7 linked regions of the Homo sapiens genome follow. The protein of the gene in region 2 purifies or fractionates together with the protein of the main gene of each other region. This does not show direct contact. Each region holds a gene or a part of one and is shown on either strand. Other genes may lie near its edges. The genes, in order: FBLN5, HRG, IMPACT, P4HA1, FBN1, KAT6A and PPP1R7.

Region 1 (3,500 bases), on a different chromosome or scaffold from region 2:
TCTACCTGATTTTGATGTCTGTACATAAATAAAAGCTACACAGAGATGTGGTCAGTTTTCTAAGAAAAGTTGAATTGAGTAAATTTCTCCATTTCAACCTCAGCAAGATGACGACATAAAGATGCTTCCAGAAAGAGATAGATCTCAACAATTCCAGAGGGTTGTAGCTTTTACATACAACTTGAGCTACAAATGTATGTACTTAAAAAAAAAATGTGTTGGGTGGACTCTTCAGGAAGACCCCAGGGCCTGACATTTTCTAGGAGCTCCCATCCCTGGCCTTTTCTACAGCTTCGGAGGTTGGGCTTCGCTGAGCTGTTGGTTGATTTGCAGAGATGATGTATATGGCCTGCACTCCCGGGAGAGGGTTCAGGGGTCCCAGGGAGTTGGGGCAAAGGAAGTGGAACAGACGAGCCAGGAAGCTGTGCCGGGAAGCTGGGAGGCCAGGAGATCCAGGTTCCAGCCCTGGTTGTCAAGGACTGGCATAGGTTCAAGACTGCTGGACCAGGGCATGGCTTCAAATTCTCACTCTAGCCCCTACTCTCTGCGTAACTTTTCTATGCCTCAGTTTCCCCATCTGTAAAATGGGGGGGTATGTACGTAGTTCAAAATGGTGGTAAGGACGATGTATGTTAATCTATATAACGTGCCTAAAGTGCAGTAAACACGACCCTGAACCTCTGCCCTTGGGGCCTACCTGTCTTCATGTGTACACCATGAGGCTGCCTTAGAAAACCGCAAGGTCTAAAATTCTTTGTTACTCCTCCCAAAATCCTTCCCATTGCCAGTGGCCTGAATATGCTTCAAAATTCTTAATATGAAGAGAGAAAATGCTCCCCTACCTGCCTGCAGCCCTCAGCCTGCTCAGAGATAGGGCTTCTCTCACTTCTTTCCTGAGCCAGAGACACAGAGAGGCCACTCGGAGTTTTCAGGAGGGATCTGCCCACATTTCAGGGCTGACACACAGGGGTCCATCTCTCCTGTTGCTTAAAATAAAGTCCAGGATGCTGCAAGCTTCTTCCAGAACCCCTAAGGCCCTGAGCCTGGCCTCACCCACCCCCTTCTTACTCCTCTGAGGGGTTTCAGCCCAGGGATGGGCCCTCCTAGGTTTGGAGCTGAATTATGCAACACTACATGCTGGGATGTTTGGGTAACACCCACTTCCTCTCCCACCTCCTCCAGGAGGGGTGTGTCTGTGGCAACACATGCAGACCCGTGGGGGTCCTCAGGTGCCATTGCCCAGAAACACTACAGCATATTTTACTTTTCAACACTGAAGGTAGGTTGAGGCCTGCTGTGAGGGGCACAAATGAGGCCATGTGATCTGATTAAAAATGGATGCTGGGCTTAATACCTAGTGATGAATTGATAGGTGCAGCAAACCACCATGGCCCACATTTACCTATGTAACAAACCTGCACATCCTGCACATGTACCCTAGAACTTATAATAAAATAGAAAAGAGTCTTGGACTGGGAGTCAGGAAACTGAGTACCAGCCCCAGCCTTGTCACTTACAAGTCATGTCACCTGGGCCAAGTCTCACTTTCTCTGAGCTTCCACTGTTAACCTCTGAGAATGAAGAGCTCAGATGAGGTCAACTGTAAAGCCACTCCCACCCCCACAAACCTAGGGTTCCGTAGCGCAAGGCTGGACTCCCTCACCCCGGATTTTAATACGCTTGTAGATATTTTTTAAAAATAAAAATCTTACCTGTGCATTCCCAGGGCTTGGAAGACAGAGAGCCAGAATGGTAACAGTGAGTATCCTGTGGAGGTGAAAAGTCAAATATAAATGCCCAAGACAGATTCAGGTCTAGGGGAGTGTGGGTCGCATGCGGCCCGTGACGTGTAACGGTGATATCACCTTGGGCTTGTATGGGGTGGGGTGTGCTCCAGGGAGGTCATGGTGGTTCCAGACACCGCGACCACCCAAGCAGAACCACACCTCTTCTACTTGCCTCCTGCATTGGGATCATGTGTTAGATCACACTTTTTAATAAAGGGTTTGGCTGCTTCAAAAAAAAAAGCTAAGGTCAGGTGCGGTGGCTTACGCTTGTAATCCCAGCACTTTGAGAGGCTGAGGCAAGAGGATTGCTTGAACCCAGGAGTTTGAGACAAGCCTGGGCAACATGGTGAAACCCCATTTCTACAAAATTAAAAAAAAAATTAACTGGGCATGATAGCACGCGCCTAAAGTCCCAGCTACTCAGGAGGCTGAGGTGGGATCACCTGAGCCCAGGGGGTTTGAGGCTGCAGTGAGCTGAGATCATACCACTGCACTCCAGCCTGGGTGACAGAGCGAGACCTTGTCCTCCCCCCACCCCCCAAAAAAGCTAAAACCTCCCACTATGGTATTAACCAGTTCCTTGGTCTTTATTCTTTATGCGAGATGTGCTTGACTTTTGAACATCTTTATGCTGACATGATTACAGAGTGAATAAGCCATCATCATGCCCTCAAACAGTGAAAGGAAAAGAAAGTGAGAATGTGAGGCACTTTGAGTGGCACCAAAGAAAGGTGTCACAGGAAGTCACTGAACCAGAGCATTGAGTCCACATGTGTGAAAATCCCCCATCAGTGGATGGGTTGGGGTGGCCCTGTCCCCTGAAGAGTGTGGCCTGCGGGAACTGCTGCCAGCAGGTCCTGATGGAGGAAAGGACTCGGGGAACCTGCACAGCCCAGGGAAAATGAAACCCGCGGGAAAACAGGAGGAGGAGTCACGCACCCTGGGCTCAGTTCTGCCATGCACAAGACAGTGATGCTCTGGGAGTCTGCAACTCTGCCCTTCGCCACGCACAGGCTTTAATCCAGTAAGATTGTGGCCAGCAAGATTGCTTTAAAAATACAAAAGCAGCCGGGTGTGGTGGCTCATGCCTGTAATCCCAGCACTTTGGGAGGCCGAGGCAGGAAGGTCACCTGAGGTCAGGAGTTCGAGACCAGCCTGGCCAACATGGTGAAACCTTGTCTCTCTACTAAAAATACAAAAATTTGCCAGGCATGGTGGTACACGCTCTGAGACAAAGCGAGACTCTGTCTCAAAAAATAAAAACAAAATAAAAATACAAAATCTCTACTACTTCACACTCATGAGGCTATTAAAAAATGGAAAAGAGCAAGCGTTAGGGAGGATGTGGAGAAAGTGAAACTCCTGTGCACTGTTGGTGTAAATATGGTGCAGTCTCTATGGAAAACAGTATGATGACTCCCAAAACACTAAACATAGAATTTCCATGTGATCCAGCCATTCTACTTCTAGGTATATACCCTCAAAAAATTAAAAGCAAGGACTTGAAACAGGTATTTGTAAACCTGTGTTCATAGCAGCATTATTCACAATAGCCTAAAGGTGGACGCAGTCCTTCGATGGATACATGGATAAACAAAATGCAGTCTGTACACACAAGGGAATAGTATTCAGTCTTAAAAAGGAAGGAAATTCTGACACATGCTACAATATGAATGAACCCTGACTGTATTATGTTAAGTGAAAAAAGCCACT
Region 2 (4,089 bases):
CCCTCCATGGGTCTCACCTTTCTCCTCTCCCTGTTCAAGCAGCTGACCTGGTGTCCATGCCTCCAGGAGGAATGTGATTCTGCAGGGCCACATTCAGCTGCACCTGCCAGTGTGGTCACGCTGGTTGTTTATGGATGGTGACTGTTCTGATAGGTTGTTGTTTCTGGTCTGATTGGTCAGTGCTTGGGTCATGTTGATTATGAAATACTTTGAGTATCACTATTGCAGTTGGAAGATAGACAGAATCTGAATTCTTTTAGTTTGTTTCAAATGATTGAGTCCTGATTTGAGGAGGAAAAAGAAAGAGGAGTATAGTGTGGAAAAAGTCTTCTGGCCCTAAAAATAAATAAAGTGAACTTACCTGAGACTAGCAAGAGAGTCGTTAGCTGAGGGAGAAGGTATAGGGAGAAGAGTGAGGTAAGGGGTCTCTGAGGCAGAGGAGATCTCTGCCCTGCTTTCTGGGCATGCAGCTGGGAAGACAGCAAGATCCCAGGGAGAGAGCAGCCATATGCCATACCTTGGCAGTCATGTCCATGGCTAGTGTACAGACATTCCTGCACCCCCAGTTTTCTACAGAAGTAGCAGATAAATCAGACTGAAAGAGTGATGTGAACAGGGTTGTGACTATCCCTGAGCAGGATGGCTATCACTCATGATGATGATCATTGGTCCAACAGTCACCCTGGCTGAGGGATAGTCACTATCCTGCTTCCTACCACCTGGACAGCTTGGCATGGTGTGAGATCCTAGAACTGTGGCCCAACTTTGTGTGGAAAGTAGCAGGGCAGGGAAAGGGGACTCCAAGAAGGACTGGGGTTAAATTTCCACTAAGCCAGTAGGATGGCATCCTCAAATAGAAATTAATTTGTTCTGAGCATAAAGTGACATTTCTTATGCACCTGAATTTATGGTCATGATTCATGTTAGCAAGCTTCTTTGCAATTTATAGCCAGAGGTTTGTTTGCTTCAATACTGAATTTAGAACTTATTTTTCCAAAAGAAAATTTAGATGCCTAGTAATAATCACGAGGAGAGAATTTAGGTCACTTTAATAATAATAAATAGGGGGAGGGTGGGAAGCAGGAGAGCATTCGGAAAAAGAACTAGAGCATGCTGGGCTTAATACCTAGGTGATGGGTTGATAGGTGCAGCAAAGCACCATGGCATGCTTTTACCTATATAACAAACCTGCACACCCTGCACATGTGCCCTGGAACTTAGAAAATAAAATGAAATAAATGATAACAATAGTTTCAATACCATACTTTATTAGTATGCCCAGGTATAGCCCAAGCAGTAACAGAGACTCTAGAATTAGAGTTAAGTCCAGGAAAGAAGGAGATTCTGAGTGGCATAGATTTGTCTCAAGTGATGTAGTGGTGAGTGACAGAATTAACTACTAATAGGCAGCACTGAGTTCTTTCCTCTCCTTTCCATTTGATCTCTCTTCTCAGGCCATCTCTTTTCCCATTCACATTTTGCTGCATCTTCAGTATGAAAGTAGGTTGAAAAGAACTGTAATTTTCACAATTACTGGTCATTTTATTTATGTTTCTAATTCAATGTATTATTCATTTTCCTCTTCAAAGGAATCACATTTTATTTTGGAAATGTATGTGTAAAAAACATGGAAACTTGTGGAAACCCACTCTTGAACTTCCCTGGACATGATTCAGAGACTGATTGAGGAAAGGGCTGATTGTCTGGCTTTAGAGGATGTTTGTGGTGCGGCAATGGGAAGCTGGGAAAATTGGCCTCAGGAAGTGGCAGCACCTCACCTTTTCTTAGAGGAGGGAGTCGGTACACAGATCCAATTTGTCTGCAATGGAAGGGACGGGGTCCTTTACCTGGGCCTCGCCTTCTTAAGTGCCCAGGTGGTGGGCCGTGGCCATGGCAACAGTGACCTTGGTTATGGGGTGGTGGGTCACAAGGTCCATAGTCTTGGAAATCATGGCAGTGGGGATGGTGTCCATGGGGATGGTGTCCATGGGGGTGGTGTCCATGAGGATGGTGTCCATGGGGGTGGTGTCCATGGGGATGCTGTCTATGGGTATCATGTTCATGAGGATGGTGTGCATGGGGATGGTGTCCGTGGGGATGCTGTTCATGGGAATGATGCTTATGGGGATGGAGGTCACTGGAATTATTATTATGAGAATGTCTTTGGGCCCCATTTGTGCCAAAAGTGGCATGTTGACAACTTGAGCAGGACATGGGCAATAGTGGAGGAGGGCCTTGTGGAAGTGGGGGTCCATGTGAGTGATCTCTTTCATCTGGAGGAGGTGGGGGTCCATGTTCGTGTGGCTTGTGGGGATGATGATGATCTCTAGATCCATGGGGCTTGAATGGAGGCTTGGTGGTAGAAGAACGCTCATGCCCACCCCAGTGGAAGGGATGTCCCAAATGAGGCGGTACACCATTGATGTTCTCATGTTCCTGGAAAAGGTCACAGAAAAGTGCCTATCATCATGTAACATAAAAGAAGATGTTAGATACTTGACTTGATTTACACCAATGGCTCCCAGATCATAGATTCCACAAATCAATTTAAAAAGTATTACGAAAAAAGATTCTCAAATTGTTATCTAGCCCAGTTGATATTTAAAATATTAACAATAACTATCATTTACCACCATCATTGTTTCACAAAAGAAACTATTTTTTTTTTCTGAGACTGAGTCTCGCTCTGTCACCCAGTCTGGAGTGCAGTGGTGCGATCTCTGCTCATTGCAACATCCACCTCTCAGGTTCAAGCAATTCTCCTGCCTCAGCCTCCCAAGTAGCTGGGACTACACGCCCAAGCCACCATGCCCACCTAATTTTTTTTTTTCTTTTTTTGAGACATAGTCTTACTCTGTTGCCCAGACTCCTAATTTTTGTATTTTTAGTAGAGACAGGTTTCACCATGTTGAACTCCTTGTTTCAAGTAATCCACCCATCTCAGCTTCCCAAAGTGCTGGGATTACAGGCATGAGCCACCATGCCCAGCCTGGAATGAAATTTTGATTTAAAAAAAAAAGAAAGAGCCAGAAACACAATATCAGAGTAAAGGATTGTCCTTTAGATGGATAAATGTTAGATATAAAAAACTTCATTATCCTTATTTTTTTTTCATTTTTACTACACAGAGTGGTGAAACAATATTATGACCTGGCACCCATCTGTAGACCAACACTGGAAAACTAGTGCCTTATAACTGATATTCTTAACTGAGGCTTGATGGTATCAACATCCCTTACTCCTAAAGGCTGAACACTTGACCTCTTCTCTCTCTTCCTTGTTCAGAGTTTAATTTTTTAAAAAATAGCTACAGAGGCCGGGCACGGTGGCTCATGTCTGTAATCCCAGAACTTTGGGAGGCTGAGGCAGGTGGATCACCTAAGGTCAGGAGTTTGAGACCAACCTGACCAACATGGAGAAACCCCTTCTCTACTAAAAATGCAAAATTAGCCAGGTATGGTGGCGCATGCCTGTAATCCTAGCTACTCAGGAGGCTGAGGCAGGAGAATCGCTTGAACCCAGGAGGCAGAGGTTGTGGTGAGCCGAGATGGCACCATTGTATTCCAGCCTGGGCAATAAGAGCAAAACTCCTTCTCAAAAAAAAAAAAAAAAAAAAAGACAGAGCCATGTTCATGGTGACAATCCTGCCCTTTGTTCCTTTTTCTTTTTTTTAACTTGGGATTGGATGTTTGGATTATTTTAAGTTTTGTTTCTGATATGAAAAATTTCGTGAAGCAAATCTTTGTACTCATGTAAAAAATAGACCAAAGATTTCTGAGACAGATGCAAAATATGGTTTTGCATCTTATTTTATATACATTTACATAATAAATTTGAGGCTGATATATTCCTCTTAGATTCTATGCCCAATAATATAAGCTTAGGAATGACTAAGTCTCAGCACTAGAGTCCCGACTACAAAGAGCATTTTCAAATTCCTTCAAGTTTGGTTGAATTGGACATGATTTTAATTTTCTGCCAATTGTTACCCCTCTTCAATTCTTGGAAAAGTTTTCATACTTTTTGTGTAATCTGGCAATTGCACTCCTTTCCCCAGTTGTGGGATACTCTCTGTATCTTTTTTCTTGC
Region 3 (4,868 bases), on a different chromosome or scaffold from region 2:
AGGTGAATTTATCCATGTGACATTCCCCTTACTTCATTTAACCTTGAAGTAACAAGAGCAATCATTGAAAAACATTTATTGAGAATATACTGTATAAAAGCAACAGGTACTAAGACATATTATAAAGGAAGTAAGTGGCATGCATCTGTCTTCAAAGAGCCTTAAGATGTAGTGAAACAAAAAGCATATAAAAAAAAGATGAAGGCAACAAAACCAACATAAGGTAATATTTTATACTTTCCTCTCATCTTATTCCAGCCATCAAGCATTTCTCTATTTTCTTCTAAGAATGTAAAGATTTAAATTTTCCTCTGGATGGTTACTAATATTAGAGACAAATCGTGGTATTTTTATCCATTTAAACTAGAAAGCTATATCTGAAATAATAATGTAGGCCTACAATACAGTAAAATAAGCTTGGCAAATAAGTGCTAGAGAGAGAAAAAAAAAATAGTGTCAGTTACAGTATGCCATCTGGTGGATTTCTTAGGGCCCTACCAATGGTATCATGTGGAACTGGGTAAATGTAGTAAAGACATCCTCCCAGCTCTGGCCATAAAAAGCTGTAAACTTTTAATGTAAATACTAAAAGCTATAAAAGCTCATCTACACACCTAAGTCAGTTATGTTACCTTACAGCAGTCACATTCATTCATTCACTCATCCTTCCTTCCCTTCATCCATCCATCCACTCAATAAATATTTACTGACCATCTACTATGAACATTAAAGTTAAAATACTATGAGTACTTTTTTCTTTTTTTACATAGCTTAGATACAAGATTGTTGAAGCTGTAGCCACAGCCATAGAGGAGTGAAATAAAGAAAACAAATGAAATTGGATTATCAAATTCAGCTCCATCACTTAACTATGGGATCTTGAAAAAGCTAACCTTTTTACAGTGCTAGAATTGCTAACTAATAAGAGTTAATTTACATAAAGTTTTGGCACAGAGTAGGCACTCAAAAAACATGTAGAATAAATGAACATTACAATTTTTACAGCCCATTTTAATGACTGAGAGTAGTCTAATTCCTCATTTTCCTATTGAAGGCCATAACTGCTTAAGAAAACATTAAAATTCTATCCAGTGATACTCTATTAAGAGGGGAATTACATAACAAATAATTGTTTGTAAGTTTTGGCACTTAAAGAGATGTGAAATTAGTAATATTAAGAACTCACCTACTCAAAATGATGAATTTTTGAGTTTCAGTTTCAGATAGCCTAGATTCTACAAATAGTCTCAATCACATTTTAAATTTACACCAAGTCCCTGTGTTCTGATTTATTTTAGGCCTAAACTATGTACTTTTAAAGTCTTACAAATTTGCGTATTTTTTCAAATGCCCTTCATCTCTTCACTTACAAATCAGCAAAGATGCATATAAAAACCTGAATTCTCAAAACTGAAACTCATGTAGTAAAAGAAATACTCTTAATTCACTGCTTACAGGAGCATAAATTGGTTTTAAAAACATTTGGGCTCACACCTGTAAATCCTAACACTTTGGGAGGCCAAGGTTGGCAGATCACTTGAACTCAGGAGTTTGAGGCCAGCCTGGGCAACATGGCAGAACCCTGTCACTACAAAAAAATACAAAAATTATGCCGGGCATGGTGGCTCGCACCTACAGTCCCAGTTAACGTGGGAGGCTGAGGTGGGAGGATTGCTTGGGCCAAGATCACGCCCCTGTACTCCAGCCTGGGCAACAGGGTTTTTGAGACCCTGTCTCAAAAACCAAACCAAAATAAAACAAAACCTTTGCAAGAAATTTGGCTATATATCAAGAGTTTCAAAATTGTTCACACTTTTTGATAATTCTACTTCTAAGAATTCTTTCTTCCTTTTATTATATTCCCATTTCATTTCAAAAAAGAATCTCAAGCAACCAGAACCTATCCTGAGGAAATAACCTAAAAAGTATACAAAGATGTTCCCTGGACCACTCTTTATAATGGTGAAAAACATGAAAAACTAAAAGGAAATGGTTAATTGTAGTATGGCATCTCAAATATTTTACAGCCATTAAACAGTATTTATCAAGCAGTTATAACAATATGAAAAAGTGCTTTTGTTTAATTAAGAAAAAAACAGGATACAAGGGTAAATAAAGCATTGGGAAAAATTAAACTTTGCAGAGAAAAAAATGAAACAAAAAACAAAATATTGTCAGTTACATTTGATGGCAGAAAATGCCAGATTTTTCCCTTCAATTCTTTTTTATCTTTTCTGCAGTTTCCAAATATTCCATGTCTATTACTATTACAATGGAAAAAATACACAATAGTTATTATTTTCTAAAATCATGCATCATTTCCCTCTATTTTTAACAAACTGAGTATACTAAAGCTTGTGATGATTACTCACCTGTAGGCATAGATGTTGTGGGTGGCACTAGCTATTTTCTTATTCTCATACAATTTGGAAAGAACCATTTTCACCTTAAAAACAGCAATAATATAAATAAGTATGCTTTTTATATTTGCTCTGTAAATAAATGCTAGAAAAATACCTTGAAGCATGCTGTATTAAAATAAATAGTCACTTAAAGAGTCTACTATACTCTGAAAAAGTCATTTCCAAAGTTTCCTTCTCATTTTAGGGGCAGAGACTGGTACTCATAATTGGTATAAAAATGACAGACCTGGTATTTTTGAGCACTAATTATCAACAAATATTTCGGTACTACTATGTCAAAGGGAAAGTTTGTTCCCCATGTAGGGAATTTTAAATGTATCATATAAAACTTCTAAAAACTAGCTCTGAAATTTACCAAATGTATACATCCAATGTAGCAGGTGTACAATAGTGGTATGTTCCAAATGTTATAAAACCACATCTTTCTCTGGGAGTCAAGTAAGGTTCATAGAGGAGGTCACATGAGCCAGGTCTTATAAGTGGCAGTTCTCCTGCATCAAAAGGAAAGATGGGGCAGGAAGAAGACATTCCACACAGAGAATAGGGCTATATGCAAAATACAGGGACTGGGTGACCAAATTTAGCAAATAAAAGTACAGGACATCCAGTTAAATTTGAATTTCAGATAAACGACAAGTAATTTTTCTACTATAAGTACATCCCATGCAATAATGTTTACCTGAAATTCAAATTTAACTAGGTATTCTGTATTTTATCTGGCAACCTTAGTGGGAACAAAAAAGAGAAAAGTTCAGGAAGCTTTACACAGCTTAACTTAGAGTATGAATGAGATGACAGAAGATGTGTCATGAATGATAAGCTAGGGCCATATTACAAAGGATCTGTGTAATAAGTTTAGATCTTCCCTTGTAGACATTGGAAATCAGCAAAGATTACATGTGTGAAGGTGGATAAGAGAGAGAACAGAATGACACATGGTCAGATTTTTCAGGGATGTTGTAATGGCAAGAAGTATGGAAGAAATATTGGTGGCAGGGAAGACTGAGCTAGAGTTGGGGACACCAATTTGGATCACAAATTGTGCAATCTTCTGTTTATCATTTTATAATCTTTCAGGTTCTCAAATTCTGATCAATAAAATAGACAATGACCTCTAAAACTTGTTTCAGCTCTCACAAATTATAATGCTATAAATCTAAGTGACTGTGATCAGAAACAGAAAGAGGATCCAGAATAAACAGATTCAGAATTAGAATGTCTCAGGAGGACCCTGGGAAGAAGATGTGACTAAGGGCCAGGGACAAAATAGGATTCCTGAGAGAAAAGACCAGAAGTCTGCACCAAAAGTTATGATCTTGACCACAAGTCAACGCAGAAAAGAACTTCCTCTTTCAGAGAGTGAAACAGCCTGGTACAAAGAGCTGTATCCCTGAAGCCCAGGGCTTTAAAGAGCTTCAAGAGTAGGGTAGCTGCAAAGACCAAAGGAAGAGACTCATGCCTAAAACCTGCAGTAAATGAGACATTTTTAAAAATGTAACTTTACAGGTAGTATTGAAATTGCCTCGTACATCAATAATGTAAGCTGAGCTACATTATAGAAGCAAGGAAGAAGAAAAGGATTCTGCTGAAAGGAGAATGAGAAAGGCAAAGACCTAGGAATAGTTTATGGCTGAAACCTCTCCCATTTATATCCCTGGGTGGAAATATGGTCACCTAAGATCAAGAAGCACAAAGGAAAGTAAGTCAGGTAGGGAGGACTTGGTTTAGCCAGTCTGTCCACTGTCCCCTTTGTTGAATAATAACAGAGGAATGGACTTAGTTTCACAGAACTCCCATTCGACAGGACAAATAATTCTTTTTGACAAGGTATTAAGCATCATAATTTTCTCTAATAACACAATGGGTATTTCTTATTTAAAGATTCATTAGAGGGTTAACCCCTAATCAGAGTTTAGATACAATTTTGAAAGCAGTGACAGGCCTGGCTAGGTGGCTTATGCCTGTAATCCCAATACCTTGGATTGGGAGGGCTGGAGGCAGGAGGGCTGATTGAGTCCAGATTGAGACCAGCCTGGGCAACATGGTGAGACACCATCACAAAAAAAAAGAAAGAAAGCAGAGACAAACAGAAACAAAACAAATCTTCCGTGATTCACAGTAATTTGGGAGTAGAAAAATGAACAAATAATTTTTATCTTATATGAAAATAAAACATAAAAGTAAAAACAAGGGGATTATTGCAAAATCATTTACCTGAATTATTTTAGTAATCATCAAAGTGAGCTAGACAAAGGAACTTTACCTGTTTGGGACAAACCACTGGAGCCAAGTGTGCCTGAAAAGTACTTCTTCGGTCTGTAATAGGAATGCCATGATCAATCGGAGGTAATTCTTCTACTTCTACTTCTAGAAATGTAAAAGAAACTTTATTTTTTAAAAAGCCTTACATTCAAATACTGAAAAAAATGAAATGGGGGGGCAGCT
Region 4 (4,518 bases), on a different chromosome or scaffold from region 2:
GCCACCGACCTTGTGGCCCAAACAGGCTAAGTGGTGAGCATTTTAGTTAAGAAGGCCCAGTGTTGTTATGCAGGACTTTGTTAAAAAAAAAAAAAAAAAAAAAAAAAAAAAACCGAAATATTTTAACTCAAGTAGGTTTAATTCACCACAGAAGAGCTAAGAGAAAAGAGGGGGTTGGTAAAATACAGTATACTTTCTTTAAAAAGGACTTGGGAGGAAAAAAATCAACTTAGAAGATCCAGCCCCACTGCTTTGCCTGCGCACACCTGCCAACTCCACCATTGTAATGTCGGAATGGTATGCACTGTTTCTGTAAAGTGACATCTTTCAGATACTTCGTGCCTTTTTGTATATACATACCCTTGATGGCCTGAGCAGTTTCACGAGTGTTCTTAAAGTGAACACGAAGATTGGAACCTCTTGATTTGCATGATTTTGTGGGGTTCTCCGGGTCAAGTGAATAGCGAACCATTTTCAGATTACCTCAGGCCACTTAGGAAAGAGCATCATATTTCTTAATAGGAGAAAGTCTTAAGTACCACTATTGTAATAATTTTTTTCTTTTTTGAGACAGAGTCACTCTGTCACTCAAGCTAGAGTGCAGTGGTGCAATCTCAGCTCACTGCAACCTCTGCCTCCCAGGTTCAAGCGATTTTCCTGCCTCAGCCTCCCAAGTAGCTGGGACTACAGGCATGCACCACCACACCCGGCTAATTTTGGTAATTTTAGTAGGGATGGGGTTTCACCATGTTGGCCAGGCTGGTCTCGAACTCCTAGCCTCAGGTGATCCGCCTGCCTCGGCCTCCCAAAGTGCTGGGATTGAAGGCGTGAGCCACCATGCCTGGCCCATAATAACTTCATAACCACAGTAAAGTATTTTAGAGCTCTCTTTGAAGGAAGCACATCTTGATTCATGAAATATCTGAAACTTCAGAGAGCCTAAGTTTTTCTTAACCATGTGACATTAGTGTGAGTGGAAACCAAGAGTATAAACCTAAGCCCTATGTACTAAAGAAATTACATAAGTTAACCTGTTACTGCCACATCATACATTCGGATTTAAATACGAAAAACACCACACAGAAAACAAACATTTTTTTAAAAAAGATTTAAGATCATAAATAGGTCATTGTTGTCACAACACATTTCAGAATCTTAAAAAAACAAACATTTTGGCTTTCTAAGAAAAAGACTTTTAAAAAAAATCAATTCCCTCATCACTGAAAGGACTTGTACATTTTTAAACTTCCAGTCTCCTAAGGCACAGTATTTAATCAGAATGCCAATATTACCACCCTGCTGTAGCAGGAATAAGAGGCAAGGTATTAGCACTAAGAAAAACAGCAAAATTCCTGAACAAAATCATCTGTCATTTTAAAAAAGGGATAAAAAAACAGGCTAAGTGGTGAGCATTTTAGTTAAGAAGGCCCAGTGTTGTTATGCAGGACTTTCCATTAAAAAAAAAAAAAAAATCGAAATATTTTAACTCAAGTACGTTTAATTCACCACAGAGGAGCTAAAAGAAAAGAGAGGGGGTTGGTAAAATACAGTATACTTTCTTTAAAAAAGACTTGGGAGGAAAAAAATCAACTTAGAAGATCATATGAAAGGGCAATCACATGGAACCCAGTTAGTGTCCTAGTTTATTACTAGTCTTCAGATCCAGAAAACAGAGTAAGACACTAGGTAAACAGAACACCTAGGCACATCTGTAAGGCATTTGTTTCCTATCACACAGCCCATTCTAGCTTAACACCCACCAACTGAGATGTAGTGAAATACTAAAACTGGATGCTCAAATTATGTTTTTATCCAACCAAAAAGTTCTTTAAATATAAAATTCCTCACTTTAAACTCTGCCTTGTCTTCTGTGATACCAACAGAACTTTAAGGTTTTATGCAATATGATGATTTCGTGTTACTTTTAAAAGAACCCACAAAGTAAGCAATTGTCCACAGATGAAACATGGGATGAGGTTCATGACTGAATCAATCATGGAGTGTTAGTCAATTGTAAACTCCTGAAAGTTAAGACTAGGAAATGTGTATATCAGACACATAAGAGTACAACAATAGGAGAAAAAGGGAAGCCTGTTTGTCATTCCAATTCTGACAACGTACAAGGTCTTCGAAATTCTTGTCCACGTTCATGGAGCCATTTATTGGATACTGTGAGAGAAAAGTAATATATTAATTTTCCCCCTTAATCTAATCAGTATTTAATTAGTTTCTAAAAGCTAGGTCTATAACAAAGTTTCATCATGGGATAAAAGTTCAACACCAAAACCGGATAAAGGCAGATGCTACTTAAAAACTTGGCTAAATGCTGAAAACACAGATTTTATATACCTATATACATATGTGTACACACTTGTGTGCGTGTATGTACATACATGTATGTATACACATGTATATTTGCCAGTCTATGTGCATTTCTTACAGTTTCCAATGTTCAATGTGAGGCTTGAAATGAGACACAAATGGACCTAAGATACAGGTACAGGTAAGAGTAGAATATTGCTTTATGTATTGTTTTCAAAGTACAGCCTCCAAAATACAAAGACAATAATGAACACAAACTTTGCACTCTAAAGGAACAACTCTCTTATCAACCATTGCTATTGTATGCTCATCAAGTTTCCAAAATACCTTTAAAAAATGTATACCATGTAAAAATGTATCCCAAAAGCAGTTAATTTTCTATTTTTTTTTTGTCTCTGGTACCATAGAACCCAGTCAAAATATCTAAAGCAGGAACCTTAATTCTTAACTCTTTTTCCTTCTTCAACCCTTGTATCTACACTTTATTCATCAAACCCTGACAATTTTCCTTACATCTCTCTCAAATCTATTTGCTCTCCAACCCTTTCACTGATGCTTTAATCCAGGCCATTATCATCTCCCACTTAGACAACAGAAAACAGCTTTCTAAACTCTCTCTCACCAACTAGCCTCTCCTCATTCTAGTCCAGTGGTTCTTAAACACTATAATCATAAGGGGAGATTTTAAAATCCTGATCAGGCCTCACTCCTTAACCTTGTAATGTCCTGTATGTAACCACTCAACATGTGGCTAGTAACACAGATTGAAATGGATACATGGGGCTAATTAATAGATATTAAAACTAATTTTACCTGTTTCTTTTTACTTTTTAAAAATGTGGTCCTGCACTTGCATGTCCCTGACTGAGAGTGAGTGCCTCTTTAAATTTTGCACATTAGGTGCTACTCGAGCCTCACATTAGAACCTGGTATCTAACATGTTTGGAAAACTGCTGTTCTATCTTCAGGACCAAATTTAAAGAAAAAGCTTTGAAGAAGACTCCCCAAACTTAGGCAGTCACCATCTTCTGTTTACATTTTTGTATTAATATGTACTACATTATAATCCATTAGTATGTCTCAATCAGATTATTAACCCTTTGAGGGGAAGATATTGTCTTATTCAATTTTGAGTCAGTCATTGTTTCTTGGAATAAGTAAAAATAGTTAAAAATAAAATCTGTCATCAAAATTCTGATTTCAAATTTGTATTATGATTAGGCACTTGTTTGGCTGAATCCTGTACAATGTTAAAATCATATTAAGCAAACATGGGGGCTTTTGTTTTTAAGACACAGATAATAGTTCCAAAATAAGAAACAAAAATTACATTATCTTCGCAGAATATATGAAATATTTACCCCATTTGTTGCCAACTAGCACTGGACAGGCTGCATGCCGTGTACTATAATCTCCTTCTCCACTGGCAAACAGATTATACCAGAAAACAGCAGTTCCCTATGGAGAACAATTCACAATTATCCCCAAGTATACAATGCCAGGTAATTGCTTTCGGTAGTTATTACTTTTTTTTTTTTTTTGAGACAGAGTCTTGCTCTATCGCCCAGGCTGGAGTGCAATGGCACGATCTCAGCTCACTGCAACCTCCACCTCCCAGGTTGAAGTGATTCTCCTGCCTCAGCGTCTCAAATAGCTGGGATTACAGGCGTGCAACACCAGGCCTGGCTAATTTTGTATTTTTAGTAGAGACGGGCTTTCACCATGTTGGTCAGGCTGGTCTCGAACTCCTAACCTCAGATGATCCGCCCATCTTGGCCTCCCAAAGTGCTGGGATTACAGACGTGAGCCACCGTGCCCGGCCGTTTTCAGCAGTAATTTTCCCTTTGTTCCTGCGGAAGAACTCTATAGCAGTATTTTATTTTCCTCTAATATAATTCTGAAAATATGGTTATATCACTTTAAGAACCGTTTTTGATCATATGAAAAATACCATAAAAATGTTTGACAACAAAAGTATTTGCCAAAAGAAAGCTAACATATCTTACATAGCAAGATGGAGGGGAAAACACAATGCAGAACCCATTTTAGAAATGAAAAATTTTAAATACTAATTCCTGGTCATTCATTACCTCTAAGTACTCGTGGCAAGGACCATAAAAATACCTTTAAAAATGTAATTTGGTCAGGCACAGGGGTTCATGCCTGTAATCCCAACATTTTGGGAAGCTGAGGTGG
Region 5 (4,644 bases), on a different chromosome or scaffold from region 2:
AAATGAGCCTTTCGTGTTTTCACAGGTCCCACTTAGGCAGATATTTGGATTCAGGTCACACTCATTGACATCTGTAAAACATATATACTATTAATATATGTAGCTATTTGATATCATTGAGTACTTTCCCCTCGAGACATAATAACTATGACAAATACATTAGAAAAGGTAAAATGCTTTCCCTCAGAAAAACAATGTTAAATTTTAGAGGCCAATTTACATTTGCTCTTCATTCTTTACATTGCAAGCTCATTATTCAGACTGGCTTTCATCTGGCCCATAAGCAGCAGGCCAGTTAATCAAATAAACAGATGGGCTCCATGCTGAGTTTAGAGCTCGTTTATGTGACAGTCTAGAAAACTTTTTAGAACAGCATACTCTATTGCAGGATGAAAAGTTTAATTCAGTCTGCATGATGATAACAATTTAGTTTTCATATTTTGAAAGAAAGGATAGATGAACTGGTTGTCTTAGTGTAAGTAGTTTAAGACTTCACTTCTTTTCCAAATTAAAAATTATTCATTTTTTATGACATTCATTTTAATTCTAGGACTTCAAACATTTTCAGTAAAGGCTTTCAGAAGATAAATGTGATAAAAATGTAAATATAATCAATACCAGACTCTTGCTTCTGGCCAAGATAGAATAACAGGAATTAAAATTATATTCTCAGATGAAACAACCAAAAAAAATAGACAATAGATACCTTAAAAAGTGGTTTTCTAGACATTGGACATTAGGCAACAAAAGACAGTGATCCCTGAGAGAAAGAAAAACTAGGTGAATCCTACAATTGCCCGAGATTACTGAATAGGAGAGTTTTAACTTCATGGCATAAGGAGGAGGTACCAGATGGAGCCAGGCACTGTCCTTGAGTTGAGGAGATGAATCTGGGCATCCTGGAAGGCTGAGGTAGTTAGGGTTCATAGGGCAGAGTAAAGGACAGGAGAGAGCTACACAGAAGAAAGCAATGCCAGAGATTTGCTAAGAGTCTTCTGCAAGTATTCAGATGAGTAGTGACCAGCACATTCATATAAGGAAACAAACTACTCAAGGCTGGGGAAAGCACTACCCAAGAAAATGAGAGGGAACAATCCTCAAAGTTCACAGGGGGTCTGGGATTGTGCCTGTTCCCACCAGCCTGACTGGAAAGCCTCATAATTCACAGGGAATTGGGTAGAATATCCAGAAGGGTCTTACCTCACTAACAGAGCAAAATTACCCCTAGACTAAGTGTAGCTTAAAAGCTTAAAAGCAAGACTTTGAAAGGGATCCATGTGTTTCCAAGTAATTTACACTTCAGAACAAAGTTCAAAAATATTTCTAGGAATACAAAAATATCTAGCACTCAGTAAGGCACAATTTACACTATCTGGTATCCAATCAAAAATTACCAGTCACTCAATGAAGCAGGAAAATATGACCTAAAATAAGGAAGAAAGTCAATTTATTCAAATGACCTAGAACCAATGCAGATGACAGAATTAGGAGACAAAGACACTAAAAGTTGTTATAACTGTATTCCATGTGTTCAAACAGCTAGAGGAATGATTGAACTTATGCAGAGACACAGAATATATGAAAAAATACCCAAGTCGAACTTTTAGAGGTGAAAACTACAACATCTGAGATGAAAAATACACTGTATGTGAGGAAAGGCAGATTAGAGATCGTAGAAGAAAAGTTTATCAAATTTGAAGGCATAACAATAGAAACTATACAAAACAAATAGATCAGTTCTAAAGTTTACTGCATTCTTGTCAGAAGTAAATTTTGTTTGCCTTTAGTCAAGGATTTAAAAAGCCTACATGATAGTCAAAGCAGAAGGAGGGTTAAGTGGACAAAAGTAATGGATAGGCATAAAAGAAATGTCCATCTGGAGCTGACGAATGGCCAGTCAGTCCTCATAACATATCTGACAAGAGTACCATTTAATAGCCACAAGAAAGCTCTCTTTGGAATGCTGGTTAAAATATGAGTATTGTGCCTCTAAATATCCTTACTTTTCCTATGGAATCTTTCTATCACTGACCCAAACTAACTTTATGTAATTTAACAGTGCTTATGACTAACAAGACAAGATGAAAAATTCTGTCTTCTTTGCTTACCTACACAAGTCTTCATGTCTTCAGATGCCATGAATCCATCATAACACAAGCACCTGTACTCTCCAGGGATATTTGTGCACTGACCACCATCACAGATATTGGGATTATCTTCACACTCATCGATGTCTGCAAAGAATAAAACCAACAACCACAGGTTGTTGATATTGGTTCCACTGTTCAGTGAGAAAACATTAACTGACCGCAGTCAAATAAACTTAGCCTACTAGCATAAGACTATTAACTCTCAAATCCAAATGAAGCTTTGCATAAACTAGCCCATTGGGTTATCCTTGGTAAAAAAGGAAAAAATATTTTTCAATATTTATAATATACTGCTCAAGGGCAACGTCCACACCTGCTTAAAAGTCTATTATTTATTTAAAATCTTTCTTTCATTTAATTTATCATTCAAAAATTATTATAAATCTTATTTTCCCTATTGTCAAATTATAAATGCCTGAATTCTATCAACTGTTTTAGCAATATTTTAAGGTAAGAATTACTTGAAATAACCATACCTACTTAGATGCTCTTAGTAATAATATTTACTTTCAACAATTTTTTTTTTTTTTTGAGACAGAGTCTCACTCTGTCACCAGGCTGGAGTGCAATGGCGCGATCTTGGCTCACTGCAACCACCGCCTCCCAGGTTCAAGCGATTCTCCTGCCTCAGCCTCCCAAGTAGCTGGGATTACAGGCATGTGCCACCACACCCAACTAATTTTGTATTTTTAGTAGAAATGGGGTTTCACCATGTTGGTCAGGCTGGTCTTGAACTCCTGAACTCAGGTGATCTGCCTGCCTCAGCCTCCCACAGTGCTGGGATTACAAGTGTAAGCCACCGTGCCTGGCCTTATTTTCAACAATTTTTGTAGCCAAATTTATATCTAGATTTTTTAAGGGACATTTTTCTAGGTCAGTAAAATAATTTTGGTTCCTAAATCCAAATTCTCTTCTTAAGCCAAGCCAAAATCAAAGCCTATGTTATTACCCACTTTGTTTCTCACCTCTACCTGGCTCACAGCTCTCGCAGCCAGGGTGATACAAAAGGAAGTGTAAATTAGACCACTGGTTCTCAAACTTTAGCATGCATCCAAATCATTTGGAGAGATTGTGAAAACAAATTCCTGGGATCTACCTCAGTAGTTTCTGATACGGTAGATCTGGAATGGGGCCTGAGATTTTACATTTTTTTAACAAGTTCTCAGGTGATGCTGTTGCCAATGGTTCAAGGAATAAACCTGGAGTTGCACTGAATTAGGCCAAAACATCAAACTCTTCAAAAGTCTGGTCAATGAAGGAAAATGTATTTTATATTCCATTTATTATATGCCAGGTACTATGGTAAGCTCTGTAAATACTATTTTATGCAGGCAATTTGAACTTCATTTTATAGATGAGGATTCTAATAATAGGTATCTTGATTAAGGATACAGTTAAAATATATGACAAACAAGGGTTTGGACTCAAGCCTGCTTGACTCCAAAGCCTGGGCCCTAAACTACTTTACTTAGGAACCTACTGAGAGATTCAACATGAGGCTAGAACCTACTCACCGGTGCATGATCTCTGGTCAGGCATTAGTGCAAATCCCGGCTGACAGCTACATTCATAGCTGCCTTCAGAGTTTGTGCAGAAGGTTTCACAACCACCATTCATTATGCTGCATTCATCAATGTCTAAAAGAAATGAAAATAATATCACCTTCTGATATGGTTTGGATGTCTGTCCCCTCCAATACTCGTGTTGAAATTTAACTGCCATTGTAACACTATTTAAGAGGCAGGGCCTTTAAAAGAGGTAATCATCCTATGAGGGCTCTACCCTCATGGTGGGATCGGTGCTGTTATAAAAGATCAAGTTCAGCCCCCTCTTGCTCTCTTTCACCCTCGTGCTTTCTTCAATGGGATAACGTAGGAAGAAGGACCATGCAAAATCCTGGCTTCTTGATATTGGATTTCCCACCCTCCAGAACTGTGAACTAATAATTTCTATTCATTATAAATCACCCAGTTTCAGGTATTCTATTACAGTATCACAAAAATGGGCTAACACACCTCCCTCTGTGTTTATGAGCATGGCACATTTTTAACATTTCCAGGCATACGTCAAATAAAGGGGAAAAAGCATTCTAGGGCAACTGAGTCACTGATTCCTTCAACAAATGTTAATGACATACCTACTATATGCTAGAGATGAGACTCTAATAGTGAATGGGACAGACACAATCTTTGACTTCAAAATGATTACACTGTGGCCAGGAGACAGATGAACAATTAATTGCACCATGCATGATGTGCCATTTGCAATGCAGGAGAAGTATTGGGTGCTAGGAGAACACATCTCAGTTATGATAATAGGCACGTGGATGAAATTCTCTTGGCCACAGATTCACTTATAAACTTGAAATTCAGTTTGATTGGCTGAGGTTCCAATCTTTTTCAATAACCTGAGTTGAAGTTCTGAGTTGTCCTGGGCCATGTTTCAGAAAACTTTGGGCTGATTTATGGTTTTGGGTGGAAACCATGTGAGACTT
Region 6 (4,868 bases), on a different chromosome or scaffold from region 2:
TTTCTGTTCCAAGCAGAGTGCCTGGCCCACAGTAGGTGCTCAATGACTATATGCTGAACCAATTAATTCCTAAAAGTGAAACTACTCCTGACCTATACACCTTCCTTTCTCCATCACTGTCAAATAAACTCTGGATAATTCTTTTCTTTTTTTGAGAACATCTAGGTTCGTAACAGCAAACTATCAATTCTGCATAGCAACTGACTGCGTAGTTCGAAGGAGAGGAAAGAAAATAGTTAAAATACAATAAAAGGAGCAGACATAATCTGTTCAAAGGAATAATCTCTCATCCTAGAGTTCACTGTATTACGATTTTTAATGTAAACTTTTCATATCTTTGGGGGAAGTCACACAGGAAATTCACTACTGAAAATAAGACTCCATTTAAAAATATAGAACAGAGCTCACCAACTCTAATTGAATAGATACTATCATGAAATTAGTTTTCCAATGAGATTAGTACATATACAAGTCTACCTGAAGAAACAAACTCTATTTTCCAACATGTCTAAATTTAGTTACTTCAGTTAACACTATAGGCAGGGTGGCTCATGCCTGTAATGCCAGCACTTTGGGAGGCCAAGGTGGGCGGATCACCTGAGGTTGGGAGTTCGAGATGAGCCTGACCAACAGGGAGAAACCCCGTCTCTACTAAAAATACAAAATTAGCCAGGCATGGTGGTCAGCATGCCTGTAATCCCAGCTACATGGGAGGCTGAGAAGGAAGAATTGCTTGAACCTGGGCAGCGGAGGCTGCAGTAAGCCAAGATCGTGCCACTGCACTCCAGCCTGGGCAACAAGAGCGAAATTCCATCTCAAAAAAAAAAAAAAAACAAAAAAACACTATATATGAAAGCTATGTAAGCAAATGGGCATTTCTTTTTCATTTTTTCAATTATTAAATCACTTTTGTTTTTCTTGCTTTATTTCTCCAAAATCAAATGTGGCCAGGTGCGGTGGATCATTCCTATAATCTTGGCACTTTGAGAGACCGAGGTGGGCAGGTCGCTTGAGGTCAGGAGTTGAGACCAGCCTAGCCAACATGGTGAAACCCTGTCTCTACTAAAAATACAAAAAAAAAAAAAAAAAAGTAGCCACACGTGGTGGCGCAAACCTATAATCCCAGCTACTCAGGAGGTTGAGGCAGAAGAATCGCTTGAACCCGGGAGGCGAAGGTTGCAGTGAGCTGAGATCACACCACTGCACTCCAGTCAAAGCAAAACAGCACATCTCTACTGAATTAAACTTTTCTTAATGCAAAGGTGCTATGAAATGGTCTCAACAAAGGTCCTTAGCTCAGCTGCAAAATAAGGACTTGGATTAGACGGTTCTCAGGGTCCCTTCCAAAAGTAAAATCTCAGGGTTCTAGGACTTGGATTTGTCTTGCACTGTACTATATTTACTACCTTTTAAAAATATGCTCAAATGACATTTTTATATAGCTAATATTTTTTAAAATTATCTATTGATAATTCAAGCAAGTGTAATTACAATAAAAGCAAACAACAGGCCAGGCACGGTGGCTCAAGCCTGTAATCCCAACACTTTGGGAGGCAGAGGCGGGTGGATCACTCGAGGTCAGGAGTTCGAGACCAGCCTGGCCAACAAGGTGAAACCCCGTCTCTACTAAAAATACAAAAATTAGCCGGGCGTGGTGGTGCATGTCTGTAATCCCAGCTACTTGGGAGGCTGAGGCAAGAGAATCGCTTGAACCTGGGAGGCGGAGGTTGCAGTGAGACTGCACCACTGCACTCCAGCCTGGGTGACAGAACGAGATTCTGTCTCAAAAATAAATAAATAAAAGCAAACAGGTGGCCTAACAGGAACTTATAACATCCAATTCACAGGTATGGCACTGAACTGATCTAACTATAAATTATTTCCTGTTTCCAGGCAGTTAACCTGTTAGATCATTTAATAATTGTAGAAATCCGATAACTGTATTTAAATTCAGCCACATGTGATAAAGTTTCTACAGGTAAGAGTTCTTACAGCACTTAAATATAGAATAAAGCATTTTAATTACTTGTCTACCCTGAATTTTTAATATATACTTTTAATAAATGCTCAAATTACATAGAGCCATTTTATGAATGAGATTCTCTATCAATTCATGACTGTATGAGAATCATTTCAAGGGTAATAACAGTAAGATTATGTTTTATTTCAATGTTCACAGGGAAAATTGAACCCTGAAATAGATCTCTAAAAATTTCATCAAAGAAAAATACCGTTAATTTTCAATTGTTAAAGAAAAATCTACAGGTATTCAGTGGGCTGCTAATAATACAACAAATTGAGATCAAATCTCCAATTTTCAAAATACATTCAATGTTAACTTTACCATCTTTCCACCCTAGGAGTATCCTCCATCATCTTAAGCAAAATGAAGATCATTTTACTTATGTCTACCAAGGTGTGCAGCAACTTAAAGCATCACTGCTCTCCAAGGAACTATAATTCAGAGCACCTTAAGTAAATTTACAGCTAAGATACTAGGTCAATGTAAAAAACAGGTACTAACAAAATTCTCCTAATCTCCAAATATCTATTTAAGCACCAAAATTTACTGTTTAAGAAGTCATAATTTCAACTATATACAATAACATCCTAAAACACAACAGAGTAAAGTACACATCTGGGCATCAAAACTCCCAACTCTCCAGAACTTTACCTTTCTTTTTGTTTTTAGAACAGGGTCTCAGTTGTCCAGGCTGGAGTGCAGTGGTGACAGCATAGCTCACTGGAGCCTCAGACACCTGTACTCAAGCAATCCTCCCCGACACAGCCTCCCAAGTAGCTAGGACTACAGGCGCGCCCATACCTGGCTAATTTTTCTATTTTTGGTGGACGTGGGGTCTCGCTATATTGCTCAGGCTGGGCTCAAACTCCTAGGCTCAAGACATCCTCCTGTCCCAGCCTCCCAAAGCGCTGGGATTACAGGCATGAACTACTGTTCCAGACCCTCCAGAACTTTTCTAGTTTAGGATACTGTATTCCTGTCCCATGCAACTACAGCTGTCATAAATAGCATTTAGGACTTCATCATATGCAAAGCCATAATACATGACAGAAAGCTATAATACAAACAGCAGAAACAAGAATTGCTAAGTTTGCTTAGTTGCGCCTATGGGTCATGAGAATCTGTCTCATTTCTGTCTAACGAGTAATCTGCAACAAAATGGAAAACAGAAAAATGTTCTCAGAGTCATCTGCTTGTTTCAAATTCAAGTCTCCATGATTTGGCTGCTCATCAACTTCCAGTAGTAAGGTGTTCTAAGAACCTTTAGTTAAAGTTTTAAAGTCTCACGCTGGAGTACTCCTCAAGCAAAATAATAAAAAAAAATTTAAAAAAAAGTTTTAAACTCATATGTCACTTTTTCATTGTAATGTAAATAAGTTCTTTTAGTCAGATTAACATTCTACATTTTTAATCTTAGGCTTCAAATATTTCAAAGTACCAGAACAAATCTATGAAGCTCTCATAGCTACAACTCACCAATAAAAAACCAGAGGTGATCACTCCACAGAAGTCCCCAAACAAAAAACTTGAATATAACTTCCCAGAAATGTGAATTTGTAGCATCCTATATCATCAGCTCTATAAACCCCGAAGCATATGCCATTCTTACCTTATCCTTTTCATGTGGAAGAAGGGACACTGGAGGTAAACAGGAAAGAGACTCACAACTCTCTTTCCCATCCACGTTGGTTGCTTTAGTGTTGAGCCGATAAAGAGGTCCATCTTTAAGGAGTCTGCCGTGGCCAATGGCACGTTTGATAGCCAATCGTAACTGCTGGTGAAAGCCAGAGGCAGCACTGCCTCCGAATAATGCAGACACATCCTTCTGACCTTTCAAAAAACGTTCAATGCTTTTCAAAGTTGAGCCACCAGACTCTGCCAAGCCCTCAACTGCCCGCTTTATCAGTTTATTCCAATCCACATTTTGTTTATTATCCAATTTTCCATGGTTCCGAGGCTTAGGAAGTGCTATTCGCCCAGGATTATCAGGATCTTTATAGGAATTGAGTCCTTTATTTGAGACTTTTAAAATTGTTCCATCTTTAACACTCAACTCCAATTGTTCTAAAACAGTTTTACGATCCAAGCCATGGGATGAAGACACAGCATTGCATATCCTTTCTTCTGAAGGACGCTGTTTCTGCTTTTTCACTTTTTTGATGGCCTCCAAAATCCACTCAGTATAAAGCGGGTTTGCGAGTTTTACCATGGTGAAGGATTCTGTATATCCATAGAGTCGTTATCCCTTATCCTGATGCTGAGTAAGTTTTACACCATGGAAAACAAGATTCTCGGAGGCTGGGAACCAGTTAACCATAGCATATGAGTTTTCTGGCCTAAGTCCTTCCTCCTTTCACAAAACAGAATGCCACCCCAATTGTACTATAGAAACCAAAACAACCTGTTGATTGAAATGTCTTCCAACTTCCCAATGAATTTCTCAATAGCACCACACATGGGTCTCGTCATAAAGTTGTAAGAACTCAAGAATATTTCATTCCCGGCTCCAGAGCAGAAAAATGTGCATCTTATGCCTGAAAAGCAATGAAAATAAGGTCAGTTTTCTACCAAGACCTATTTCGAATGAAAATAAGCATCCTCATCATAAAGCAATCAAACAGCAAGTGTTTACTAGGCACCCTTAAGAATTTCCAAACTTATCTATTAATATTCCAAAACAATCATGTATGTAAACCATTGGGATAAAAAAGAAAAAAAAAGAAAAGAAAAAAAAAAGATGAGTAATTAGGATACAATGAGGAAACACGATGACATGTTCTAAGAATGACCTTTAAGCTACCACTAACCAGAGTGGGTGATGGCTATTCTGTACTCCGCAATCTCT
Region 7 (4,868 bases), on a different chromosome or scaffold from region 2:
GTTTTATTTTATGCATGTTTTACCACAATAAAGAAATTGGGAGGGAAAACAAAGTAAACCAAACACTAATTTCCCTGCCCTTATGAGGTTTGTATTATACAGTGGGGGAGACAGACACAAAAGTAAGATAAATAAGTAGGACTTCTGTTTCAAGCCATGACAGAATAGCTGGTGCTGAGCTCCTGCCTTTGTCACAAGCTACTAGAAAATAGGATAGAATAGGCCGGGCGCGGTGGCTCACACCTGTAATCCCAGCACCTGGGGAGGCCAAGGCGGGCGGATCATGAGGTCAGGAGATGGAGACTGTCCTGGCTAACACAGTGAAACCCTGTCTCTACTAAAATACAAAAAAAATTAGCCAGGCGTGGTGGCGGGCACCGGTAGTCCCAGCTACTCAGGAGACTGAGGCAGGAGAATGGTGTGAACCCAGGAGGCGGAGCTTGCAGTGAGCTGAGATCGCGCCACTGCACTCCAGCCTGGGCGACAGAGCAAGACTCTATCTCAAAAAAAAAAAAAAGAGGATAAAATATATGAAATAATTGTTTTTATACATCAGACAACAGGCAACACAGATAGTGATTCTTGAGAGACAGGAAACAAATGAGGTGGGTGGTGTGATCATCCCGGCCTTCTGCCTGGAGGAACTTTCAGGACCACAAGGAGGCGGAACCCAAGCAGAGCCTGGTGGCCACACAGAGTTGAGATGGTGATTGTAGTTTGGGGAGGCAAAGGGAGCTGGAATGTATAGATAGGAGTGAGCTATGTAGGGAAAAAGCCTCCAGAAATCCACATGGTATCCTGTGGAATCCTGGACTGAAGATGAAGCTGTGCTAGGCAGAGTGAAAAGCTAAAGGCTGGTCGAAGAACTACTAAGCAGCCCCAAGATGCAGAATGCCCAGAGCTCACCCATAGCAGGTCCATGTTTGTGTTCCCGTCAACCACAGTGGAGAGAACTTAAATACACAGGATATTCACCAGAGATCCTAGGAGGGCCACAGCTTCAAAACAGTGCTAGATTAATCTTACGGAGTAGACTATTTAGATGTACTCTAATAAAGCTTAAAAACAAGCCTCAAAAGGATCAAGCTGTAACTTAATTGCCTGTCAGATAAAGTTCAGTATGTTTTGAAGGAAAACAACATAAATTCCAGACATTCAACAATTGAACACCATAAAGCCCAGGATCTAATAAAAAATTACAAGACGTGAAGAAGGAAGGACTTAAAGGAAAACATGAATCTAATGAAGAGAGAAAAATAATCTACCAAAAAAAAAAAAATAAAGCCAAATGTTCTTTTAGAGTTGAGAAAAATACAGTATCTGAAATAAAAAATTCATGACATGGGCTTAACAGCAGATAGGCTACTACAGATGATAAGATCATGATCTTGAAGATTTAACAACAGAAATTATACAAACAAGCACAGCAAGATGAAAGCCCAAGGGGTGGAGCAGGGTGGAGGCAATGGCCTCAGGGGCCTCGCTAGTGCCAGGGGAACATGCATAACTGGGTTTTCAGAGAGAAACCGGGGTGAGGAGCAAGGGCAGAAGCAGTTTTAGAGAAAATAGTCTCCAGAAGCTTTCCACATTTGATGAAGACCATAGATTCACAGACCCAGTTAACCCTGACACATCACAGAAAATAAACTACACCATGGCACGCTATATTCAAGTTGCAAAAAACAAAACAAAATAAGAAACAATGATTAAAAAGAACATTAAAAAGCAGCCAGAGGAAAAAAGATAAAAATGACTGCTGGCTTCTTATTAGAAATAATGCAAACCAGGGCCGTGTGTGGTGGCTCACACCTGTACTCCCAGCCCTTTGGGAGGCTGAGGCAGGAGGACTGTCTGAGCTCAGGAGTTCGAGACCAGTCTGGGCAACATGGCAAGATCCCGTCCTTTTTTTTTTTTTTTTTTTTTTTTGAGAAAGTCTTGCTCTGTTGCCCAAGTTGGACTACAGTGGCATGATCTTGGCTCACTGCAACCTCTGCCTCCTGGATTCAAGCGATTCTCCTGTCTCAGCCTCCCCAGTAGCTGGGACTACAGGCACGTGCCACCACGCCCAGCTAATTTTTGAATTTTTAGTTGAGACGGGGTTTCGCCATGTTGGTCAGGTTGGTCTCAAACTCCTGACCTGAAGTGATCCACCTTGGGATTACAGGTGTGAGCCACCGTGTCTGGCCCCATCTCTATTTATTTTTAAAAAATATTTTTAAAATAATAAAAATTTTATAAAGGAGAAATAATGCAAACCAGAGGATGAAAGAACAAAGTATTTAATGTACTTAAAAAGGAAAAAAAAATCTCTCAAGCTAGAATTGTGTATCCATAATATTAAATTCCAAAAATGCAGGCAAATTAAATAGATTTTTCAAACAAATCAAAGTGAAGGATTGGTTTACTGCAGAATGCACGACAAAACAATAGAATTCTTCAGGTGGAAGGGAAATACCAAGTGGAAACTCAGATCCACACGAAAGAATAAACAATGCCAGAAAAGGTAAAATAAGTGAGTTTTCTTGTTTTTAAATTTCTTTTTTTTTTTTTTTGAGACGGAGTTTCACTTTTTTGCCCAGGCTGGAGTGCAGTGGCACGATCTTGGCCCACTGCAATCTCCACTTGCCAGGTTCAAGTGATTGTCGTGCCTTAGCCTCCTGAGTAGCTTGGACTACAGCATGTGCCACCATGCCCAGCTAAGTTTTGCATTTTTAGTAGAGACAGGGTTTCACCACGTTGGCCAGGCTGGTCTCAAACTCCTGATCTCAGGTGATCCACCTGCCTTGGCCTCCCAAAGTGCTAGGATTACAGGCATGAGCCACTGCGCCTGGCCATTTTTAAATTTCTTTAAAAGATAAGGTATCATGGGGATCGTAAGATATTTAAATGTAAAATATATAGATGGTGAAAATTAAAAATGTATTTTTAAATTCTAATCGCTAAAACAACCCTCCCTCCAAACAATCAACAAGAAAACACTAATACAGAGGTATAGCAAATAAGCCAATAATAGAGTTAAAATAGACTGCAAAAAAAAAAAAGTCACTCCAAAAAGTAGGTAGGAAAGAGTAAACAAAGAATAGATGAGACAAATAAAAAACAAATACTAAGATGATAGACTTAAACTCAACCATTACACAAAATGTAATTAAATGTAATTATATTAAATGTAAGCAGTCTAAAGACACCACTTAAAAGGCAGAGATTCTCAGACTGGAGAAGAAAGCAAGATCTAGTTACATACTTTTTATGAAAAACACATTTTAATTATAAAGGCATGGGTTAAGAGGAAATGGATGGAGAAAGATTCCATGAGAGCGCTAATCATAAGACAGATGAAGGGGCTGTGTTAATAACAGACAAGATACCCTTCCAGGACAAGGATAAAGAGGATAAGCAAGAAAGAAGAACATTTCATATGATAAATGGATCAATTCATCAAGAATTCCTCAATTCTAAATATGTATGCACCTGATAACAGACTTTCAAAATACAAGAAACAAAAACTGATGGAACTGAAAGGAGAAATGGATCCATTGACAATTATAGTTGGAAGGTTTCAACATTCTCCTCTCAGTAATTGGAACAAATAGGCAGAAAAATCAACAAACATAGTATGTGGGTTATCAGAAACTTGTTAAGACTGGTTTTCTATTTCTGCCTTAGAGATGAATGATGTGCCTCTCAAATGTGATATGAGCATGGAACTGAGTTTGAGAATTCCTGGTTTGCAGCTTTCCTTCCTGGAATGCAATTCTTTACCTGTAAAATGGGGTAATATGACCTTATCCACATGGTTGCTGTGATAATTGGATCAGAATGGAGAGAGGTATGGACACCATAAAGCGCTGTGCAAATTCTGGCTATTTTTTACTATCTTTGGTGGCCTAAGGAACAGGATTCTTCTGTGTTACAGGGTCAGGCACTACCTGGCCCCTAGTGATTGATCACCAGCCTGCCTGCCTCCCTGCTAGCTGTGGTACCCAGGTTGGCCCCTGCCTGTGGTCTCAGCACTCTGTGCCCCATGCTCTGTTCCTAGGCAGGGCATGCAGAAGGAATCGTTACGCTTCAGGAACATTGCTTCAGTATCAGCTCGTTTCCCAAACCTGCTCCCTAATTTTTTGCCAGGTGCCCTTTCCCTATCACCTGGTCCTCTGTCTCTGGACTCCTTATTCCTGTTGTTTGGTTTCTTTGTGTTGTTCCCTGGCTTCTTTGCCAACTCCCTATGCACTAATTCAACCAGCCTACCACCAGCCACACCTTCCTTCAAGGGTGGGCTGCACATAGACCCACCTGGACTCATTGAGGCTCCCCCTGGCCTGGTACATCTTTATCACCTGCCAAATTCTGGCTCTGATCTTCCCAGACATGCTCTGGTATCCCATCATGACACTACTCAAGACCCAGTGCCACTAATAAGGGGCAAGGAACATTTGCAGCAGGCCACCTGTGTTCTAGGGAAACTTGGATGACCTTTTAAAGTGGGGAAAGGAGAAAGCACAGGACATAAGCAGGGTCAGCAGCACGGCTAGAGGAGAGACAAGGAAGAATGATGCCTTACACTCAGCATGAATCCTGGATTAGACTGAATGTATCTGAGGACACTACTACATTCCCAGCATCACAGGGTGACACCTGTGCCGCAGTCTCTGCAGGGCCACGTGCTAGCGGAAAGGCAATAAACCTTAGGAGATTTCTCTAAGGGAATCCTAGCACTGAAGACTTCCACTCGGGGATCATTTCCCAACCCCTTTAGAGGAACTGCAAAAACTTCTTATATTCTGTTTCTCTTCCTGCTGACTCCACAACACTACTCCTGAAACCATACCTGTGACAAGACAAATACAAGGCAAATTCCAAGATGACTA

Evidence for each region.
Region 1: the proteins of HRG (region 2) and FBLN5 purify together in Homo sapiens (affinity purification with mass spectrometry; one large-scale study listed by BioGRID and IntAct). This does not show direct contact.
Region 3: the proteins of HRG (region 2) and IMPACT purify together in Homo sapiens (affinity purification with mass spectrometry; one large-scale study listed by BioGRID and IntAct). This does not show direct contact.
Region 4: the proteins of HRG (region 2) and P4HA1 purify together in Homo sapiens (affinity purification with mass spectrometry; one large-scale study listed by BioGRID and IntAct). This does not show direct contact.
Region 5: the proteins of HRG (region 2) and FBN1 purify together in Homo sapiens (affinity purification with mass spectrometry; one large-scale study listed by BioGRID and IntAct). This does not show direct contact.
Region 6: the proteins of HRG (region 2) and KAT6A purify together in Homo sapiens (affinity purification with mass spectrometry, with the first as the bait; one large-scale study listed by BioGRID). This does not show direct contact.
Region 7: the proteins of HRG (region 2) and PPP1R7 purify together in Homo sapiens (affinity purification with mass spectrometry; one large-scale study listed by BioGRID and IntAct). This does not show direct contact.

Annotation. Positions count from the first base shown.
Region 1 is NC_000014.9:91,941,195-91,944,694, forward strand, and holds part of FBLN5 (fibulin-5 isoform 1 precursor), read right to left. Parts: intron 1,768-3,500; coding exon 1,713-1,767; intron 1-1,712. UniProt on the Homo sapiens protein: Essential for elastic fiber formation, is involved in the assembly of continuous elastin (ELN) polymer and promotes the interaction of microfibrils and ELN. Stabilizes and organizes elastic fibers in the skin, lung and vasculature.
Region 2 is NC_000003.12:186,675,394-186,679,482, reverse strand, and holds the end of HRG (histidine-rich glycoprotein precursor), read right to left. Parts: intron 2,461-4,089; coding exon of another isoform or gene 2,437-2,460; coding exon 1,600-2,436; 3' UTR 1,249-1,599; downstream 1-1,248. UniProt on the Homo sapiens protein: Plasma glycoprotein that binds a number of ligands such as heme, heparin, heparan sulfate, thrombospondin, plasminogen, and divalent metal ions. Binds heparin and heparin/glycosaminoglycans in a zinc-dependent manner.
Region 3 is NC_000018.10:24,442,971-24,447,838, reverse strand, and holds part of IMPACT (protein IMPACT), read right to left. Parts: intron 4,791-4,868; coding exon 4,687-4,790; intron 2,447-4,686; coding exon 2,373-2,446; intron 1-2,372. UniProt on the Homo sapiens protein: Translational regulator that ensures constant high levels of translation upon a variety of stress conditions, such as amino acid starvation, UV-C irradiation, proteasome inhibitor treatment and glucose deprivation.
Region 4 is NC_000010.11:73,006,124-73,010,641, forward strand, and holds the end of P4HA1 (prolyl 4-hydroxylase subunit alpha-1 isoform 2 precursor), read right to left. Parts: intron 3,781-4,518; coding exon 3,684-3,780; intron 2,170-3,683; coding exon 2,099-2,169; 3' UTR 1,094-2,098; downstream 1-1,093. UniProt on the Homo sapiens protein: Catalyzes the post-translational formation of 4-hydroxyproline in -Xaa-Pro-Gly- sequences in collagens and other proteins.
Region 5 is NC_000015.10:48,481,710-48,486,353, forward strand, and holds part of FBN1 (fibrillin-1 isoform a preproprotein), read right to left. Parts: intron 3,788-4,644; coding exon 3,665-3,787; intron 2,235-3,664; coding exon 2,109-2,234; intron 72-2,108; coding exon 1-71.
Region 6 is NC_000008.11:42,044,746-42,049,613, forward strand, and holds part of KAT6A (histone acetyltransferase KAT6A), read right to left. Parts: intron 4,558-4,868; 5' UTR 4,233-4,557; coding exon 3,633-4,232; intron 1-3,632. UniProt on the Homo sapiens protein: Histone acetyltransferase that acetylates lysine residues in histone H3 and histone H4 (in vitro). Component of the MOZ/MORF complex which has a histone H3 acetyltransferase activity. May act as a transcriptional coactivator for RUNX1 and RUNX2.
Region 7 is NC_000002.12:241,170,328-241,175,195, reverse strand, and holds part of PPP1R7 (protein phosphatase 1 regulatory subunit 7), read right to left. Parts: intron 1-4,868. UniProt on the Homo sapiens protein: Regulatory subunit of protein phosphatase 1.